Linked DNA regions of Homo sapiens: region 1 is reported to be linked to region 2. Evidence: microRNA targets listed by miRTarBase, many of them from high-throughput screens and not tested one by one. Region 2 holds a microRNA gene; the other region holds the end of a gene's coding sequence.

Region 1 (4,540 bases), not on the chromosome of region 2:
ACTGTACCCCAGGACCACAGAATACACATTTCTTTCAAGTGCAAATGAAACATTTACCAATATAGATCATATCCTTTACCGTAAAACAAGTCTCAATACAATTAAAAAGGATTCAAGTCATATAAAGTCTGTATCTGGACCATTTAAAATTAAATTATAAACCAATAACAAAAAGATATATGAACATCCTCATAGATTTGGGAAAAAATATAATTTTAAATAATTCAATGGTCAAAGAAGAAATCAAAAGGGAAAATAGAATCTTGAATAGAATGGAGAATATATCAAAATTTGTGAGATGCATTTAAAGCCACAGAAGGAAATGTATAGCTCTAAGTGCTATATATACAAAAAAGAACCCCATCTGATTTATTGCCTTGATGGTGATGAGTTTCACAAGTCAAAATGTATCAAGTTATATACTTTATGAAATGTATTATATGTCAGTTATATTACAATAATAATGTTAAGACAGTCCTCTTCCCCTAAAAAGATTATTTTTAAGTTAGAATCAAACTTACATGCCAGCTCTAACAAGCACTCGCTTGTTGGGAAATATTAGGATAACTATACCACATGTCTAGAACTTTAGTGACAATACAGTTCTCTTTTACAAACTTTAGGCTATAGAATGGAATTAACATAGTTCCAGAAAAAAGCTGAGATCCTGAGTCCTCTATAATGGGAAAAAGGATTACTTAGGGTTCCAGGCAGTTTCCACCAAAATCTGAGTTTTCTTTTCCTTGAAATTTGATTGTACATGATTGCATACAGCTAGACATTTAAAAAATCTTTACAGTTAGGTTTAGCCCTATGGCTATTCTCATTAATAGAAAATGAGCAGATATTACGAATCCCATCTATGAACTAAGGATTTAAAAAGCACGTTTTCTCCCCTAAGTTTTCTTCACCTTTCTGCCAGCTTCATGCTGTTACCATTCTGGGGTACAGCAAGTGCCACAAGATGAAAGCAAGCTTGGTGCATGAATCCCACATGGAACAGTGCCACTCACCACCAGTTACATACACTCATGACCGATTGTTTTACATTAACAAGAAGTACATTTCTTTAGTATTTGATCCATTATGTATTTTTAGAGTTCTTTTTCATAGTAGTTGAGCCTACTCTATCACATGTCAAGAACAGAAGGCCTCTGTCAAGCCCCCATAACCCCTCAAGAAAAGGTCAGAGCTGTGAACTTACCCTAATAATTGTCCCCAAGTCTCAGATTGAGCAACCTTCCCCAGGTCTTACCTATAGAATTCCAGCAAGTACTTAGTTTGGCTTTCACTATTATCTAAAGTCATTCACTGGACAATACTTTGGGTTCTCCAAGTGAATTTACTTATAAAGAAGTAAATATCACAATAAAGCTGTTAAGAAAGTCCCTCTCCCTTCCAAAATCTTCTTTTTAAGTTAGCATCAAACTTAAATATCGGCTCTAGCAAGCACTCACATTTTGGGAAATATTAGGATAACTATACCACATCCCTAGAACTCTGGTGACAAAAAAGAAAAATTACTTATAAAGTAAATTCACTTGGAAAGTAAATTTACTTGTAAAATGAGTTTACAGAAGAGAGCTGGGCTAACTCTTTTGCCTAGAACTTACTTATTATATGGGAAAATAAGTGGGAAGGGGATAACTACTCCAGCAGATCTTTCTCTTTCCTGAACTTCCACCAGCCCCATAGGTCCCAGTCAGCTGGCCCTATCTCCTTTTATATCTCTTCCAATTGAAACGCAGACCAGGATAAGGAGTTTGCATCCAGCCTCTGGGCTTCCACAGATATGATCTCCCAAATATTATAAAACGGTGCCTTAGAACAAACCAGTAGTGAGCTTTTACTATAATCTGCACTACTTTATCTCACCATAGACACCCAAGCTGAGCCTTGATAACAAATCAGTGTTTCATCAAACCATGAAGGAGCTTCAAGTGCCCAACAGACTGAGGACTAACGGCAGGGGCCAGAGTCTGCAGAATCATTCTCTGGTCATGAGCCCTTTCTATGATCTTCCAAATTTCTACACTTCTAGATATGTTGAGATCTTCTTTTCTCTGTCATTACCTTCCATAAAAATGCCTCAGGGCAGCTGGGAAGGTGCAGGTTCTGTAGAGATAAACATATGTGCCTTGAAACCTCCTCTGTATCCTGAGTCCATAGGCTTTTACACTAGGGCTCACTTAGGGACAGAAATTTCATTATAGGATCTACTCCAGAGTTGTCCAATAGAAATACAATGTAAGCCACATATGTAATTTTAAGGTTTCTAGTATCCACATTAAAAAAGTAAAATGAAACAGGTAAAATGAATAACATACTTTATTTAATCCAATAGAGCCAACATATTATCATTGCAATACACAAAGGAAAAGTTATTAGTGAGATATTTTACATTATTTTTTGAAGTAGGTATTTGAAATCTGGTATATATTTTATACATTGAGCACATCTCAATTCAGACTAGGCATGTATGAAGTACTCAACAGACATTGGTGGCTCCTGGATACCATATGGGACAGCCAGTGCCATTCTCATCCTTGATATTTGTTTCTACCCTCACATGTACCTCTTAATTTCTTTTATAGCTGGTTCAAAAAACATATTGCACCTCTCTACCAAAGTCATAGCAGCTCACTCAACAGCTGTTTGTTCCTGCGCATAAAGAGAGTGTGGAAAAGCTGGAAGAAATCATCCTCTTCCTTTAAGTGCTTTATATTGTTCATATTTTCTCTTTGTGTTTTCTTTCTATTCTGAGAGAAAAATATGTATTGGATTGTTTTTCTCTCCCCACTACTCTTTTGTTTTTACTGCAATTAATTTGAAAGACGTATTTTTTTTTATTGTTCTATTGCTACTCTTAAATGTAGAGAGGAAGGCCAAAGGTTGTAGTGAAGATTGTAGTGAAGACTCTCTTCAATTTGAGTTTGAAGCTACCCAAATTATCATTATAATGGTTTGGTTTTAGAGCTCAATCCTATACATACTTATACAAAAACAAAGTAATTTATTTGCTTATTATTGCATTTTATAGAACCTGGCAAAGATATTACAAGAATGTAAAAATACAGGCCAATTTCTTTCATTAACATAGATGAGAACAAAATCTAAACAATACGTTATCAAAATAAATCCAGTATTGCATACAACAAATAATAATGGTGTATTTCAGCAAGTTGTGGTAACAAATTGAAGTAAATCAATGTACTAAGCCACATTAACAGAACAAAAATGATACACAATTGTCTCAATAATTTACAGAAAAGACATAGGTAGAATACGAGTTTTCATTTTATACAAAAACTTGTAGTAAATTAACAGATCAGAACTTCCTAAATTTGATCCCCTGCATCAATCAAAAAAAACCTGCATCAAATACTATGCTTAATGGCAAAATACTGAAAGCGCCCCCTATCCACCTCAAGACCTGTCATCAGTCAAAGATGCTTACTCTCACCACTGGGTGCATCCTAGTACTGAGTAACTGTTTAAAACGAAAGAACTGTCTGGGCGCGGCGGCTCACATCTGTAATCCCAGCACTTTGGGAGACCGAGGCGGGTGGATCACTTGCGGTCAGGAGTTCGAGATCAGCCTGGCCAACACGGTGAAACCCTATCTCTATAAAAATACAAAAATTAGTTGGGCATGGTGGTGGGTGCCTGTAATCCCAGCTACTTGGGATGCTGAGGCAGGAGGTTCGCTTGAACCCAGGAGGCAGAGGTTGCAGTGAGCCGAGATTGCGCCAGTGCACTCCAGCCTGGGCGACAGAGCGAGATTCCATCTCAAAAAAGATTCAAAAACCAAAAAACAACAAAAGAATTGAGAACACAGAAAAACAGAAGATCAGAAGGGAGAATCACATGCTGATAAGCCTCAGGGTACTTATCAGAAGTGGGTGGGAACAGAAGAATATTCAAGAGCTTGGACGACGCAGGGTCATAGGAATTACACAGTTGCAAGGATTAAAATATGGACAAAGAGTAGTGGGAAAGTAATATTTAGAGAAAGTGTAGATGGGGAAGCCATGGTTTGTGACATTATAAAAGGAGACAGTACCAGCCTCATAATCTAAGAAAACCCCAACACGGCGAGGGGGCACTGTCATGGAGAGAAGCAGGGAAGGGGAAGAATCCTCATAGGCCCTATATTCATGGTTATGCTGTAACCCAATCACCCAGTATCCACTCTGAGGCTGATACCTGGAGTAAGCACTGTGATTTTGAGCAAAATGGTTGAAAGAGAATGTAGGTCCCAGTGAATTGCTGCATACCCCCAGGATCCAGGCAGTCTTCTTGGCCACATCTACCTCCCAGTAATGCTTACCAGAGGAGAAGTGCTGGGAGCCCAGGACACTACAGTCATAATGCTTTTCCAGACAGGAAGGTCCAGATACTTTAGCTCCCACAAACCTCACTTGTCTCCGGTTTTTAGCCAGGACAAGATTTAAATTAGCTGTGTGTGGATTCAGGGTCACGTCAACTGTAGGAAAAGGTACAACATCAGCAGATGAGAACGGGGACATGGGTCTCGTTA
Region 2 (4,000 bases):
TCCTAACTTGGGCCTTCTTAATTTGAGGTATGTGAATGGGCTTCAGGAAATCCTGAATCTAATAAAAAGCTAAGGACTCTAGGGAGAGAGTTCAGTTTTCCATGAGCTTCACTGCCAAGTAAGACAAATAACACGTTTATGGATATATAAAAGAGACCTCAGAAGCCATCAAGCCATCAGATACTCAATTGTCCCTGACAACAACTTGCATTTTTTCCTTCTGTTAGAATTATATCCAAGTGCTGGAGAGTTGTCACCAACAACAGTAATATTCACTTGGACATTTAGCTCTAGTTTAAAGCACTGGAGAGAATTTGGTTTCCTGTAGTTGAATTTGCAGCGTTTAAAAAAAATATTAGCCTGCCTTATGATATTTTATAAGTATTTAGGAAGTAAAATTTTGGTTGAACAAAAGCCATAATTTATTTAACAAATATTTATATAGGGCTTACTATATGCTAGGCACTGTTTTAAATGCTTTATAATAATTAAGTCATTGAATTGTCAGAGAACTACCTATGAGGTAAGTGCTGTTCTTATATCCATTTCACAGGTGAGGAAACTGAGGCACAGACAGGTTGGGGAAGCAATCCAAATGAAGACATCAGAGGGTATTCACCCAGCAAGAGGCAGAACTAAGATCTAAATTCAGGCAGTCTGGATCCAGCATTTATGTTCCTAAACACATCTTTGCTCGCTTCCTGTTATGAGTGTGAAAAGAATATTCTGTTTCATAGAAGATGATCATCATCAGGTTTTACCACAAACCTTGCATTGGCTTTAGGAGTAAAACATAAATAGCTATATTTTTTCTAATTTCTTTATGTTAGTTCTAATAAACAATGTATTAAATACATATTTTTAGGGCATTACATGCATATTTAATTTGACCAAGCTGATATTATCGGGTTTCATACTCCTTTTTTGCATCAGTACACACATTCAATTTTATATTTGACTTTTTTTTTAATTGCACAGGGAGCCAATTGGCAGCTTTGGATCAAATTGGCTTACATATATGTTTTGGCCAGCATGACGTTTAAGAATTTATTTCCTTCCTTCCTTCCTTCCTTCCTCTCTTTGTTTCCTCCTTTCTTTCTTTTTTTCTTTGACAACATTTACAAATTGGGAAATTGACCATGAAAGTCTAAATTTCTGGCTTCTTTTTGAAAAGACAGAAGGAAGCATTGGGTTTGCATTCAGGCATGGAAATATTAGGCTGGACTGAGAAGTGGCTGACCTTTTAGATGAAGTTTGTGTTCCCCAGTTGGCCATAGTTTTTACCAGTTTGCTTTGCTTGATATCTGCATGCATTTGGGTTACGGCAGTTGAATGAGGTATGCATGTCCTTAGAGGCCAAGAAACAATTTACTTACTGACTGAGCTTTAGCATGAGAGAGCATAATGACATGTGAGTTACCGGTGAATCAATTACAAGAGGTACCCAAAGGTAAGCGTGCAGTTGAAAGTTTCATATACAAGTGGTTGTAAATAAATAGCCTATAACTAAAAAGTAAGAATCATGGTAATGGTTAAATGTTCATTGAATACATACTAAGCACAAGATTTCTTATAGGTATCAGTCCCTTTAACTCTTGTAACAAGCCTAGGAAGTAGAAAACTGAGACAGAGGCAAGCTAAGTAACTTGTGCAAGATCACCAGCTAATAAACAGCGCAGTTAGGACTTCAGTCAGGCAATCTGGTTCTGGAATCTGTGGCTTATATTATGCTATACTTTCTCTCTAAAAACTCTGAAAGAACTCTCTAGTACTGGCAGAGAATGGGATTTACTGGTTAATTCATATGATGGTTTGACAATTGCTGTGTGAATTATCAATTGTTAGGAGGTAAGACCAGTTGAGAACTTTAAGCAGTACTTCACTGGGGTTTGGCAAATTGGTAGAGAGACCTTGAATCTAGAATCTAGTGCTTGACTTTATAGGCCCAGAAACCATATTTCACCCATTTGTAAAAATCATAATATAAAATCACCAGTATGTTTGTAACCCAGAAGTACAAAAAGTGAATAAGGAATTTGAGATGCCATTATATACAGAGGTGAGTGGTAAGGTCTGGTTTACTGGCATCCTGGGAGCTCCTGGCCAGAGCAGAAGGTGAACATTGTCAAAATTGAAACAAGGGATCAAGAAAGCCAGGCCTGCCTCCAGGTTGAGGTAAATAGTTCAAATTATGAAGTTCAAGCAGCTACAGAATGATCTGTTCCAGGGGTTCAAAACTTTTTTGTGCATCAGACTCACCTGGGGGAAGTTATAAAAACAAACAAACATAGAAATGTTCTGCTTTATATTTTTAGACCTACTAAAGCACCTACCCTGGAGTTCTAGTGAGTTACTGAGCTAATTCTGTTGCTTCTGGCCCACTGATTGGTATTTGAGAAACACTGTTCTAGTTGGAATTTGCCTTTTGAGAACGTTAATGCATAGTATCAGATAGATACGAGAGTGATAGATTAAGATGATAGCTATGATTCCTGTATTAATTAATGCATGAAAGTGTTAGCCAGCTTATGGCATGACCCTCTCACCTGATTTCTACCAATCTCTCCCCAGAAAGAAATCAGCTGAGGAAAGGTTGGTAGAAATCAGGTGAGAGGGTCAAGTCATAAGCTGGCTGAGTTGGGGAGTAGGCAGGGGTCCAGTCCTGGGAGAATCAGTGCAGAAAGCAACTGAGGCAGTGCCAATGTTTAATGAGAGGCTTATAAAATTGCCACAAAGTGAGGCCCTAGCTACATGTCATGAGAACTCCCTGGCAGAGGGGAGAAAGCAAATTTGGATTAGAATGGGAGGTATCAGCTAGAAAATCAGAAATCTGACCAAATAATGATAAACATGATAGTTTATGAATTAGGAAGCAGGGAAGTGAAACCCTACCCCACAAATGATAGATTAGGAAAGATTTGAGATGAATAGTAGAAAAGATAGTGCATAAGGTCTCCTCTGCTCTCCCCAGAACTGAGGGATGATTAAAGTTAATAGCATTTGTTGGGTTCTACTTAATAAGTACAACTTTTTGGATTTATTAAACCAGTTGGCATTGGTTGTGTTATGCTATAACAAACTCCAAATCTCAGTGGCTAACAAGGAAGTTGACTTCTTGTTCTTCTGACAACCCATGTGTTGTCCCTGCTTTGGGTCCCAGGCTGATAGAATAGTCGCTATCAGGAGGATGCTACCATGGCAGGGACAAAGAGAGCTCAGAGGAAATCATGCCAAGAGATAAACATTCAACAGGAAAGTGGCATACATTGTTTGTGCTTTCAGTTCATTGGCCAGAATAGTTACATGGCCTCCACCAACCACTGGGAGCCATAGAGTGCTATGTGCCGGAGGGCAGAGAGCTGGGAATATTTAGTGAGCAGCATTCGGTACTACCATCTTTCCCTCTGAATAGGTTAACAGCCACAAGTCCTGTCACAATTTTTAGCAATTTCTTCAATGTCAAGAAGAATTATATTTCTTAGCTAACAGAGGTGGTGTAGTTTCAGGGTGCCTGCCTGGCCTATCTACAGCACTGTCAGCTCCATGCTCACCCTTGCTGAAGAGATGAGTCTCTCTGTTCAAGTTCGTCTAATGTCATAGCCTTTTCCCTGATTGGACCAGGGACCAACACCTATCCAGGTGGCTGTCAATCTGTTGGCTAGCCTGTAGGCAAATGTATTTTCTGAGACACAGAGTCTCTAGTCAAATGGATGTGGGCCTATGAAGTAAATGGGTCTGTAGACTTGGGCCCTGGGCATTTTGATCCTGTCTGTGGACAGTAGCCAATGATCATAGATGAGGAAGATTATATGCAGTTGAGACAAAGAGAGAGAAACTTCTATCTTCAGTGGTTCCCTGGATCTCAGCTCCTATTCCTGGGAGATTCACCTCTGCTTCATTTTTTGTGAAATGGCTTTATGGCCTTATAATAAATATTCATTTTATTTGAGCCACTTTATTATCCATATGAATAAATTGAGAAGCCTAGTCACTCTGCCTC

Evidence for each region. Region 2 holds the annotated microRNA hsa-miR-5186 (AGAGAUUGGUAGAAAUCAGGU, at 2,545-2,565, opposite strand). A microRNA usually pairs through its seed, bases 2 to 8, with sites in the 3' UTR of a target mRNA and lowers its output. Matches are read on the target gene's strand: a 7mer-m8 pairs with bases 2 to 8, a 7mer-A1 pairs with bases 2 to 7 and ends in A, and an 8mer does both.
Region 1: the mRNA of TRIM6 is a reported target of hsa-miR-5186. Seed matches in the 3' UTR shown: 7mer-m8 at 3,741-3,747.

What each region holds. Positions count from the first base shown.
Region 1 is chr11:5,610,723-5,615,262 of GRCh38, reverse strand. It overlaps TRIM6 (tripartite motif containing 6), which reads right to left. Exons shown (of 8, transcript NM_001003818.3): 8 at 2,311-4,486. The coding sequence ends at 3,921. All of the region lies in intron 7 of TRIM6-TRIM34 (TRIM6-TRIM34 readthrough), which reads right to left. It also overlaps a transcript of TRIM5 not described here. Among named protein-coding and RNA genes, the nearest start is that of TRIM34, 12 kb to the left of the region's middle.
Region 2 is chr3:151,563,360-151,567,359 of GRCh38, forward strand. It overlaps MIR5186 (microRNA 5186), which reads right to left and starts at 2,636; the gene lies at 2,517-2,636. The region is part of intron 1 of LINC02066 (long intergenic non-protein coding RNA 2066); the gene reads left to right. It also overlaps a transcript of IGSF10 not described here.